3 separate regions of the Homo sapiens genome follow, and all the other regions are linked to region 1. The links come from fine-mapping of genetic effects on plasma protein levels. A gene starts in region 1. Each other region holds a variant in brackets. All regions are shown on one strand. Distances are between the middles of the regions.

Region 1 (4,056 bases):
CCTCCTCACCTCAGTAGAGAAGAACAGGGAACAGTACCCCCTTTATAGATGGGAAGACTGAGGCTTAGAAAAAGAGACTGGCCAGCCCCACTGCTTCAGCTGCCCCTCTGCTAGTATGTTTCACCCTCACACAACCTACAAGGATAACCTGCTGGTCCCCACTCTATAGATGAGCCTCTGGTGGTGGCCAGGGGAGCAGGAGGTGTGGCCTGCCAATCCAAGCCCCAGCCCAGGGCCCTTGCCACAGTGCTAGTGGGCCACCCTTGCCCATCATGCAGCATGGCATCCATCTGCTCAGCACCCTACACAACACCGGAGGTAGGGGAGCCCACCACAGAACCCCTCACCAAGAAGGTCCTCACCATGGAGAAACTGAGGCACTGGAGGCGGGGCCTCTGCAGTCACGCTGGGTCACGTGCTCCAGTCAGCCAAGCTGCAGCGGCCACCAAGGGTGCCCAGGGTCTGGCCTGTTGGTCACAGTGTTGACCTCATGGCCTGAAATGGGTCTTCCCTGCCCAGACAGGTTCCAGCCCACCATCATCTATCTGCCTCAGCCCTGGTGGGTAGGGAGTGGCTGGGAGACCCTGCCCCTCACACCCTGGGCTTTGCGGTATTCAACGAGCCCCCAACACACATTCCAGGGCCTCTGCTCCAGATTAGGCCACAGCCTGTCTAGGCACACAAGGGGCACCCACACCCTGGAGGCAAAGAGACATGCCTATGTGCCCGCAGGCACACATGATCACGCGCACAGACACACGTGCAGATGCATACCAAGTTACACACACGCACACAAGCCCGAGGCGGGGACCCCCAGGACACGGAGGCAGGCAGGCAGAGGTGGGGCCCAGGATGTCTTGCCCCTGTCTGTGGGCCTGGCCTCCCCACTCAACAGACGAGCATGTGGGTGCGGGAGTGGTTATTGCGAAAGGGGCCCCAGCATGTGCCACCCGTGGAGACCACAGCAGGCATGCCGCGTGCATGCATGTGTGGCCGTGGGTGTGCAGGCGGGGGCGAGGACACAGATATGCACCCTCAGAGTCCGTGTGTGCACCCAGTGTTTGTGCATGTGCACACTGGGGCGGCGTTGGCTTGCATGTGCACCAGAGGTGTGCAAGTGTGCAGTCCGTGTAGACAAGTGCACGTGCAAGGAAACGTGTGTGCAGCCTGCGGCACCATGGACATCAGCAGGGCAGCCTGGGTGGGCACCTGGGGAGCACCCTCCAGGCGGGGCATGCCCAACTCACATGGAGCCCACCCTCCCTTGCCCGCACCGCGGGACCTCACAGCCGGTGGGGCGGGGGAGTCCCACGAGGGCTGCTAGGGAGGGGTTGCTGATTGCCCCACCGCCCCTGATTCCCCCAGCCAAGCCTCTCAATGTCCCTCGGGCTGCAGATGGCGGGCGTTGCTGCCTCCTCTCACCGCCCGCCCTGGAGGCAGCGCTGGGACAACCCTGTCCCCCACGCCCTCTACTGCCGCCAACGCCCCCATTCATCCCACTGTGGACTGACCTCGGAGAAACGGGAGGTTCTGAGCCCAGACCGTGAGGCTGGGGTGGAGGCGGCCCGACACCCCCACCCACCCTCGGTACCCACGTTTCTGCAAAAACCCGCTCGTTAACCCCTTGGTGGCCGGGGCGCTCCGAGGCCGGGCCCCGCCCTTCCAGCCCACGGCCCCCGCCCTCGACTTGGCCCAGCATCGGGGACCCTCGGACCGCCACCCTCGGCCCTGCCGAAGCCGTCAACTTTCCCGGGAAGCGGCAACTTTTCCTGCCGCCTCCGGCTCCGCCCTCCCGGGGCCGGGGCGCCAGCGGCCCCAGCCTGGCGCGGCACTGCGGTGGCTTTCCCTGCCGCCCGGCTACGCTTCCCTCGCCTCGGCAGCCCGGGACGGGCCCTGCGGCTCCGGGGAGGGGGCGAGCCGCCCCCCTCCGCGCCCCGCCGCCGGCCGGGCTCGGGTGCAGCGCGGACACTCACCTCCAGCGGACGCCCTCTTCATCGTAGGGGTTGGGCGGGGCGCGTCGGGGACTGAAAGTCGTTTCGGGGCGGGCGCCCGTCTCCCCGCGGCCGGGTCCGCATCCAGGCGCCGCCGCTACGGCCCGGCCCCGGCCCGGCCGCGGGACGAGGCTCGGCGCGCTCCGCTCCGCCCGGCTCTGGCTGGGCTCGGGCCGCGGGTGCGCAGGGCGCGCAGGGCGCACAGGGCGAGGGCGGCGGCGGCGCGGGGGTTGGGGCGTGGGCGGCGCGGCGGGCCGGGGCGCGCAGGCCGGGCCGCAGGAGGCGCTCAGCCCGCCCGGTGCACCGGCGCCGCGCGGTCCCAGACAAAGGCGGCGCATTCCTGAAGAGGCGGCGGCCCCTGCAGGCGGCGGAGGGGATGGCGGCCCGGGCCGGAGCCGGCCGGGGACGCGGGCCCGAGGGTGTGGCGGCCTAGGCTGGCCCGGTCCCCAAGCGGGCAAGGGCTTTGTCCCGAGGCCTAGGAATGGCCTCTGCCTGACCCACTCCCTTCCTGGCCTCACGAAACCCATGAATCCCCCGCCCCCTGCACAGAAGCCCCTTGCTGCAGCACGATCGCCCCCATTTTTCAGTAAGAAACAGGCTCAGGGCTTAAGAGAGTTCTGGGGGCCCTCCTGGGCCTTTGTGGCCCTCTCTGCACCATCCTAGAGAAGGGACCTAGGCCTGATGTTACCCGTAACCCTGCAGGGGTCCCCCACCTCTTCCCTTCTGCGGAATGGGGGCTCCAAACCCAGAAGACGCTCTCCGAGGTCACCTGCTTAGTATCCCCCCACTCTACCAAGCCAGCCCCCCACGGGCGGTGTGAGGCATGGGGCCAGAGAATCCAGTGACGCCCCTGCACACACCACACAGGGGTGCAGGTGTCCCTTCTCAATCTTCTGCTCGGGGCACCTACCGGGCCTCACCGATGAGCTCCTAAGTGCATCCCGGGGTCTTCAGACAACTGCCAGGCTGCCCCTGCACCTGGAGAAGTGCTGGGAGTCAGCTCAGCCGGGCTGGGTCCTCCCCAGGCCCACCCTGCATGAGAGGACCATGCAGATGAGGGTCTTGCAGGCCCACCTGGTGTCAGTCTGTAGGACCCTGACTCAAGGACGGAGTGGGCCAGCCTGATGCCTTGATGGCCCCCCTCAGAGCCCAGGTCCACTGATATGAAGCAGAGAGACCTGGTGACTGGGCACCCCTGTGCCCTCTGCCTGCCCCTGGCCATGGAGGTGGCCCTGAGGGAGATGAGCAGGGCGCAGGGCCGGTGACCTGCCTGCCTTGTGCAGAGGAAGTGAGGACCTCCCAGAGCCCTGGTGCTCCCATCTGATCCCAGTGGCAGGCAGCTTCGCAGGGTGGAGCCATGCTGGGTGGGCCCTCTGCCTGGTGTGGAGGCTGCACTGCCCACATGCCTCTGGCTGCCGCTCTGTGGCCCTCATCACTTTGGCCTGCTTTATCCCTATCACCCTTGTCCCAGCCTAGGCTTATGAGGGCATTGTGGAGTGCATGCCATTCCCAGCCACACAGAAGGTGAGGTGGGGCCCAGACACCCCCAGCCACTCTGTCCCCTGGCCTCCTGAAGGGGTGGGCTGTGCACACACTGCCACCTCCCCAGAGGGTGCTGGCTGCCGAGTGCCACCAGCTCAGCCCCTGAGGTGGCTCAACAGGTCCTCCCAGAGCCACACCAAGACGTCATCACCCATTGCACAGATAGGGAACCTCAGGCGAAGCTCACAGAGCCAGTGGGAGGCTGAGGCCTGACCCCCAGACAAGCATTCTTCTCCAGGGTCCCTGCACACAGCAGCCCCCAGGCTAGGAACTGAGCTCTCTCCACAGGGATGTATCAGACCCTAGATGAGTCACGTGGCACTGACCATCAGTCTGAGGACAGCGCTGGGGTGGACCAGGCTCCAGTCTCGGGCTGCTCTGTGCTTGCAGAAAGGCCTTGAGAGGACACTTGCTTGCTTACTCCGCAGGCGTCTCTTCAATTACCAGTGACCCAGAGCAGCCCACTATAGCTGAAGATTGTGACCCCACACCCTATCTCATAGGTTTAAAGCCCCTCCCACCC
Region 2 (4,056 bases), 45 kb before region 1:
CTCCCTGGCCCCTGGCTGTGGATGGGTCAGAGGGCTCATGTGCTGTGGCAGTTGGCCAGGGAAGGTGCATTTGGAGAGTGTCAACATACTGTTTGTCTTCTGCTGTGCAAACTCTCCTCGACTTGTAATTTAAAACTAAAAGTGTTTCCGACTTAATTTCTGAGAAAGCACCAAGTAATGGGATTTGTGGATGGACTTGAAGAGCCAAGAAATCAACACTGACTGCCTCTCGACCTGGAGAATTACGGAGCCCATGAATTCTCTGGGCCTCAGCTCTGGTCCCAGGCTCTGTGCACAAAGAGAGGTGGGCCTGGTGGGTGGTGCGGAGCTTGGCCTTGTACTTCGTGGCTGGCTCAGCCTGCCCTCCTGGGACAAGTGGCTCTGCCGGGTTCTGTGTGCCTCCTGGCATCTCTCTGAGGGGAGCTCCCAGCCTCTGCCTAGAATACCTGGGCAGCGTGTTCAGACCTGGGGCCCCCTGCACCATCACCCCATTCCAGGCTGGGAAGCTTGAGGACCCAGGCAGGGAAGCTTGAGGACCCAGGCAGGGCCCCAGTGTGCCACAGGGCTTGGCCACTGTGCAACTGCACTGCAGCTCTGGCCTCTGGCCGGGCCTTGCTTACCGACCTCTGCCCTCTGCCGTGTGTCCTCCACCTTGGCCATGCACAGCGGGGGCTAGGCGGGCACATGGTGGAGGCTGCCAATGGTGCCCTGGCAAGTTCTCTTCGCCCTCGTGCCAGCCACTCCAGGGAGCACCAGGGATTGAATAAATAACTGCCACGTTTATTAAAAAATAAATTTGGTGCCTAACGGAAGTGCTGTTTCTATACATAGAAAAAAATGTTTAAAATAAAAACCAAAACAGTTCTCAAAGGCGCTGTGGCATTAATTATTCATCGCTTGCTAATGAAAACATGGCTTTGCAGGCGTGGCCCCCACCTCCCTCCAAATAAGACTCGGGCTCAGGGAAAGCCTGGCCTTAAGGGCAGGGAGCTGGTGACCCCTGAATAAAATGGGGGTGGCTGTGATATCCTCCATGGGTATTTAGGGAGCACCCAGTGTGTGCCAGGCTCGGCTGGCCTGGGGGAGTGCACAGTGGGCACTGGTCACCAGGCAGGCACAGGGGGCAGTCTGCACCCCTCCTTAGTCAGCCTGGGGAATGGCTTGGGGTCTGACCTGGAGGAGGGAGGGAGCAGCAGGAGGGGCTGGCTGGGCAGCAGAGCCACCTCTTGGAGGAAAGAAATGGGGACAGAGGCCACTCTGGCCAGCACCAGAGGACAGTGGCTACATGTCTGGGCACCCAGGCCAGGGGCCTGGCAAACCCCCACAGGGTGGGTGGGTGAGGCCCTGTTCTAAGTCATTTGATGACCCAGCCACCCTCTCAGATGCTGCTGGATCCCAGACAGAGGGAGAGAGGGAGGCTGCAGGCCTTGCCGGAACCTAGGCGTGCCATGCATGCCCCAGCAGCCAGAACCAGCCATGTGGTGGTGCCACACCAGAAAGGGCCGGCCTGCCAGGCAGTCAGGGGCAGATGGGAGCAACTTGGGAAACAGCAGCAGGAGCCTCCACTCCCTCTGCCTCCACCTCTCCAGCAGACTATATGGCACACCCTGCCCAGCTGTGTGCAGCAGGGAAATTTGTGCCAGGCCTCGGGCACCTGAGCCCACACTGGGCATCGCTGTCCTGTCACTGATCCTGGGCACTGATAGGAACTGTGAACAAAGCTCGGTCCAGGGCCCTGTGGACTGAGCTCCCCATCCTCAGGGCCCGGGAGCCCCTCCTCCTGCAGTCACCTGGGGCAGCCCTATCTCTGTGGGGAGGCCTGGAGCATTTGTTCTTTTGTTCATTCATTCGTTTATTTATCCATAAATGCCCCCGAGCTGGCTGCCTGGTCTCCTGGGGAGAAGGGATGCTGATCCCATCAGTCACCTGCCTGAGCAGGGGGTCTGGGAGGCTGAGAGGAAGCCTCTCTGAGCTGCTGTGGGTGCAGGTGGTATCCAGGGCGACAGCTCCTGGGCAGGAGATGAGCTGTGCCCTGAGG[T/C]GGTCAAGTGGAACCCCAGCAGGGGCCTTTGAAGCTCCGCCAGCCCCTGGGGCAGGTCAGGGATGGGGAAGAGGCTGCAGGGGGCGGCAGGAGAGTGAGGCTCCATCTCTGCTGGGTGGCTCCGTCCTGGTTAGCAAGGTCTCTCGCGTCCTGGCCCCTGTGCTGGCTCCTGGGACGTGGAGTGGAACCCGCATCCCTGCTGCCCATGTGTGAGGACCCGGGCTGCCAGGGCTCCAGCTGGGCCCCAGGCTCAGGGTTTGTGTGCTGGAGACCCAGCAAAGCTGGACAGAGCCTGGCGGGACCTGGCTCTGCGATGGCCCAGCTTGGTGTACTCAGAAGGCCTGATGGGAGCTAGCCTGGACACCTTGGCCTGATTTAAGCCTGGGAGCCGCGTAAGGGGAGGCAGTTGGGCCTGCCGCCGAACCGACGCCCCGCTGCCCCCACTTGCCTCTCCCGCCGGTGGGCCTGACCTTGCTGGAAGCATCCCTCAGCCTGGTATGGATTTCCTGTCTTCACCGAGGCCGCAGGGCCAGCCGGGCGCAGGAGCCGAGCGGTGGTCAGGCCCGGGGATGGTTTTTTGTTTGTGGGGGCAGGGGCTGAGGGGACCCAAACCTTCCAGAGCTGGGGGGTTTTCTTCTCACCTGTCACTCCGTGGCTCCCTTTGGTGGCTCTTTGTCTGGCATGGGTGCTGGGCCCACCCTGCGGTGTGGGCAGCTGTCCAGCCTAGAGCCTGCCTCTGACCCTGGTCCTATCCTCAGGGCCCCTTCCAGGGCTGGAGCAACAGGGACACAATTGCTGAGCTCAGCCTGTGTCAGGTGCACAAGTGACCTCACTTGGGAGACAGTGCAACTGCAGTGGGCCTAGAGAGGGCTCTTCAGCTCCCAGTCACACAGCCAGGCCTGGAGAGGTACACATCCTGGTCCCTGATTCCCCCATCGGCACTGGGTGGACTGAGGAGTGGAGTGGGGACCCTGGGTGGGGGAGAGGAAGGAACTGGGCACAGGGGGAGAGCCAGGGACCAGAGGGCATCATGGAGATGAAAGGACAGGCGAGCCCAGGAGGGCACACACCATGGCACGGCAGGCAGACAGACATAGACATAATGCCCATATGGCAGCATGATCTCTCACACACACACATGCTCACATGGGCAGCACACTCACACACACGTGCATATGGACGGCACGCTCACATACACACGCACACATGGGCAGCACGCTCACACACACACGCACACATAGGCAGCACACACACACGCACACATGGACAGCAGGCTCTCACACACGCACACATGGGCAGCATGCTCACACACACACATGCACACATGGGCAGCATGCTCTCAGATACATGCACACATGAACATGGGCAGCACACACGTACACATAAGCAGCATGCTCACACATGCACACATGGGCAGCACGCTCACACACTTGCACACATGGGCAGCACACACACACGCGAGCAACACGCTCACACACACAACATGGGCAGCACACACATGTACACATAAGCAGCACACACAATGCACACATGGGCAGCACACACATGCACACATGGGCAGCACACACATGCACACATGGACAGCACACTCACACGTGTACACATGGGCAGCACGCTCACACACATGCACACATGGGCAGCATGCTCACACATGCACAGATGGGCAGCACACACACACATGCACACATGGACATCACACACGGACATCACACACATGCACACGTGGACAGCATGCTCATACATGCACAGATGAGCGGCACGCTCACACACTATGAGCAACAAGCTCACACACATGCACACATGAGCAACAGACACGCACACAGGCACAACATGGGCAGCACACACACATGCATATGAGCAGCATGCGCACACATATGCACACATGAGCAGCACGCTCACACATGTAAACAGGCAGCACACACACAAGCACACAAGAGCAACACACACACATGCACAACATGGGCAGCACACACATGCACACAAGCAGCATGCTCACACATATGAACACATGGGCAGCA
Region 3 (4,000 bases), 22 kb before region 1:
CTTCAGCAGTGAGTCTATTAAAATGTGAATCCCCCTGGGAAGGTTATGGCTTATCAGCTAACACTTGAGTTATCAGCTAACACCTGCGTTGACAGCTAACACCTTCCACGGCAGCTGGCTAAGAGCAGGATTCTGCAGACATGAGGCCGGCTAAGTGCTGGGGTTGGAGCCGGGCAGGAGGAAGGAGTGGACCACAGGCCAGCTTCCCCAACCTAGAACTGTGACCCTGGGGCCCTCCTACCCACATGGGGCCCCTGCCCCACTGGGTCCTCTCTACTTGGGCAGACAGTGCAGTCGCCCTAAACGCAGAGCCCAGCAAGCCCAGCACGCGCAGTGACCGCTGGGCATGTGCGTCCTCCCAGACTCAGGTTCATAGGTCCTCAGACCCCCTCCCCACAGCCTGGGGGCCTCCTCTGCCAAACCCCCTGCCCCAGGGCCATTTGTTGGCTACCAGGGAGATGGCAGCCCAGGGATGGGGGTCCGGAGGCCCCTCCCTGGGTGGGCTGGGTGAGGAAAGCACCTGGCCTCGTGTTCTGTTTAAACTGCGGACACCCTCTCTGCTCTCTTTCTACACACTCTTCCTAGGAAGGTGGGGCCTGACCATGTCAGCTCCCCACTGCTGTCTCACCTGCTGTCACCAGAGGGAAAACTGTGCTATGTAAATGGCACTTCCTGTCCTGGGGCCAGGTGGGGTGGAGGCCCCACATGCTCATGGGGCAGGGTCAGGACTCACTGCCACATTATCGACCACACCACACCACTGACTGTGGGGGTCACCAACTGAGCCTTGTCACCAACCATACCATGCGGCTGACTGCACCCACCAAGACTAGCCACCCATGGTGGCCACGCCCGCCACATTACCACTGAGCCATGCCACCATCCCACCACTGTCCTGTGGCTCCAGGCCCGAAGCTGTGGGCTGTGAGTCTGGCTGTGGTCAGGGCTCAGCTCACTCGCCTTGAACCGAGCCCTGTGCTCATGGATCTCCCTCCCGAAGCAGCTGTGTGTCCACTCTAAACATGCCCCCAGTGAGGTGCCAGAACTGAGCCACACGGTGGTGCGGGGTCGGGGGAGACAGGGGAGGACATGGGGGAGTGGCCACGTGGCGCTCAGTTCTGCCAGGAAGTGGGTATTGGGCGCAAAGACACGGCTCGGTTCCTGCCGAGACAACTGCTTTTCGTAAACCAACTTCTGAGAGTCGGGTGAGGTGGGCTCTCTCCTCGCTGCAGCCATGGTAATTGGCTCCAGCCTGGCCCCCCTTGGGGCCTGCCCGCTGGTCTCCATGGCAACCCCTCTGCTGAGCGAGCAGGAGGGGGCATCTTTTTATGAGATAATCAAACCCAACTTTGCAGCATGGGTTTGTCTTCACAGCCGGGGCCCTGGGATGAGGGAGACGCAGCCAGGTGGGGGGAGGGTGTCCTCTGACCCCATCCCAGGGGCCAGACTGGTGACTCACCAGCCTCCTCCCTGGCCCCATGGTGGACTGCAGCCCCTCCCCACCCCAAAAGACCTCCCTGGCCCGTGGCCCCTGACCTGTCCCCTGGGCTCTGCAGCCTCAAGGCCACAAGGCCTCTCTGGCCCTCTCGCCCACCTTTCTCTCTCCTCTATCTGCCTGGCCAACTCTAATAGGATGCTCTACTGTCCTTCTGGAGATAGCATGGCCTCCCTGCCTGCCATCACCCCACTTTCCACTCTCACCCAGTCTCACCCTGGCCCCAGTTCTCACGGAGCCTCCAGTATGAGCTCTGTCCTTCCTGCCCCTTGCACACGGGGTGAGCAACCAGCCCTGCCATGGCCCCAGCTCTCACAGAGAAACCATGGATAGCGTGCCTGTCCACCGTCCCCACCCAGGTTGGCCCTGCGGCCACCTGAGCCTGCGAGGGCCCCAGAGGGCTCTCCTCAGCCTCCAAGCTGCACACAAACTGGTACATCTGTGCCTCTCCCACCCTCCCAGGCCAATTAACATCTCTTCTTTCCTCCAGGGTCTCCTCCTGGGACCTCCCCGGAGGATGGCCCTGCTGGCTGTCAGGGCTGGGTCATAGCTAGGAGCTCCTGTCTCAGCCCAGGCCTGGCTCAGGAGCCACAGTCAGGGGAGGGCTGGCTCTCCTGCCTGGAAGGCTCTGAGCTTTCCCAGCGGGGACAGTGACCGGATACTGACCCAGAGCCTCTCCCTGCGGCAGCCAGACTGGGCAGGGTAGGACCCAGGATCACCAGGCTGAAGGCCCAGGAGGCTGGGCAGCAAACAGTCCAGGAC[G/A]CATCCCCCTGACGGGAGCAACAGGCAGCCCAGGTGGGCACCTGCACCATCAGTTCTGGTGAGTGGAGGGCTGTTCACGTTCACTGCAGGAGGGAGTGTGGCGGGGGGAGGAGGAGGTGGGAGGAGAGCGAGGAGGGCAGGAGCAGAGGGGAGGGGTGGAGAAGGGGGATGGGGAGGTGGCGGTGGGAGGCTCTGGGGATATGCCCAGCCATTGGGCAGGCAGGCGGCTGCTGAGGTCAGCAGCTCACCCCAGCAGCCCAGGGAGCTGAGCCGAGCCGAGCAGGGATGGCCTTCTTCATGTGGTCCCTGGCCCCCACTGTTCCTGGGGCCCCGCCCACCTCCGTGCCCTCCCAAGCTTGGGCTGAAGTTCCACAGGGATGCCTTTGCCTCTGCCCAGCGATGCCAGGAGGCAGCACAGGGCAGGCAGCTGTGGAGGCGCCGAGCACCGGCTTTCATCCACGCACAGCTTGGTGCCCTCGGGCCCCAATGCCGCCCCTGGGCTGGGATCACCGGAGGGTCCCATCACCTGCTATAAAAAGTGAGACAGCAATACATTTACAGATTAGGAAACTGAGGCAGTGAGTGGTTAAGCCCTGCCCTGCTCCCACTCCAGACTACCCAGGTGGAGAGGCGGCCAAGGGAGACACTCACAGTGCTGCCCGGAGGGGCCACGAGGCATGTCCTGCCCAAGCAGGAAGGCTGGCGGCCTGGCTAGTAATGGGGGAGGGTGTGGAGGGGCTGGGCTGCAGGCCACGTGCAGAGGGGCAGGCAGCGCCCTCCTGTGTCATGGGTGGCCGGGAGGGGAATCTCCAGGGAGGCTCTGAGCTGCTGCTTCCCAGGGCTGGGGTAAGAGGCTGCAGAGGGCTGGGGCTGGGGGTGGGACCAGCTGTAGCACAGCCGGGACATCAGTCAGCTCAGGATCCTCTCGGACACCAGCCATGTCCCCGTCAGGCGGTCACGTCACAGACCACAGTTATGAGGCAGAACAGGAGGCCACAGCTCAGTGCACCAAGGCCAGAAATAGCTCCAGGCGGGGGTGGCGGGCCTATGTCATCCCCACACCACAGAGGGTCAGGGCACCCCTCCCACGCCTGCTCCCCACTCCTGGCCCTCCACCACTGACTCACTCCCCCCGCCCCCCACCCATCTGTCCCCCGATCCTCGCTTGCTTCTCACATGTACACCCACCCGCCATCCATCCTCAGGCCCACAGACACGTGCAGGGGCAGCCAGAATTCCCATGGTGTTTCCTGTGCCCTTCCAGGGCTCCAGGTGCTGCGGCAGGAGATTGGCAGCAGCTTCTGGTGGGGGCAGTCTGCCCTTGAGGGGTCCTGAGTCTCCTAGGGAAGTGAGTACCAGCCCCTGATGCCCTGGCCCTGGCCCCTGCTCCTTGTTGATCTTGGCTGCAGGGGCAGGGTAGGCAGACCAGGTCAATAACAGGCAAGGACACCTGCCATGGTGAGAGGTCACTGGACCCAGACTGAAGCAGCTCCAGGCCTAGCTAGCTACATGCTGTGGGGGAAACTGAGGCCCAGTGTGGGCAGAGCCTTCAGGACTGGCCTCCTGAGTGTGCCTAGTGCTTCCTCAGCCCCCTCGGCTCCACTCTTTGCCCTGGCCGGCAGGGCTCGTCCCTGCCCCGTGATGCTGGGCTCACCAGAGACAACGAGATGTAGGTAGGTCCAGGGCCAGCAGGCCAGGCCAGAGGCTGGGCCCTTCAATCCAGCAAATTCTCTTGGAGGGGGT

The links. PIP is the posterior inclusion probability: the model's chance that the variant is causal. Protein levels are from antibody-based Olink assays in UK Biobank. Linkage for the fine-mapping came from a reference panel and not from the study's own genotypes, which makes the PIPs less certain.
Region 2: its variant is fine-mapped to the plasma level of the RTN4R protein (UK Biobank, PIP above 0.99).
Region 3: its variant is fine-mapped to the plasma level of the RTN4R protein (UK Biobank, PIP above 0.99).

The regions. Positions count from the first base shown.
Region 1 is chr22:20,266,098-20,270,153 of GRCh38, forward strand. RTN4R (reticulon 4 receptor) reads right to left here and starts at 2,221. Exons shown (of 2, transcript NM_023004.6): 1 at 1,974-2,221. The coding sequence starts at 1,995. RefSeq lists an enhancer at 1,065-1,753 and silencers at 1,965-2,124, 2,215-2,374, 2,425-2,484.
Region 2 is chr22:20,221,578-20,225,633 of GRCh38, forward strand. No RefSeq gene overlaps it. Among named protein-coding and RNA genes, the nearest start is that of LINC00896, 17 kb to the left of the region's middle. RefSeq lists an enhancer at 1,407-2,074. The variant T/C (reference allele first, on the strand shown) is at 2,039.
Region 3 is chr22:20,244,085-20,248,084 of GRCh38, forward strand. All of the region lies in intron 1 of RTN4R (reticulon 4 receptor), which reads right to left. Among named protein-coding and RNA genes, the nearest start is that of MIR1286, 3.1 kb to the right of the region's middle. RefSeq lists enhancers at 2,768-3,358, 3,205-3,254, 3,265-3,374. The variant G/A (reference allele first, on the strand shown) is at 2,258.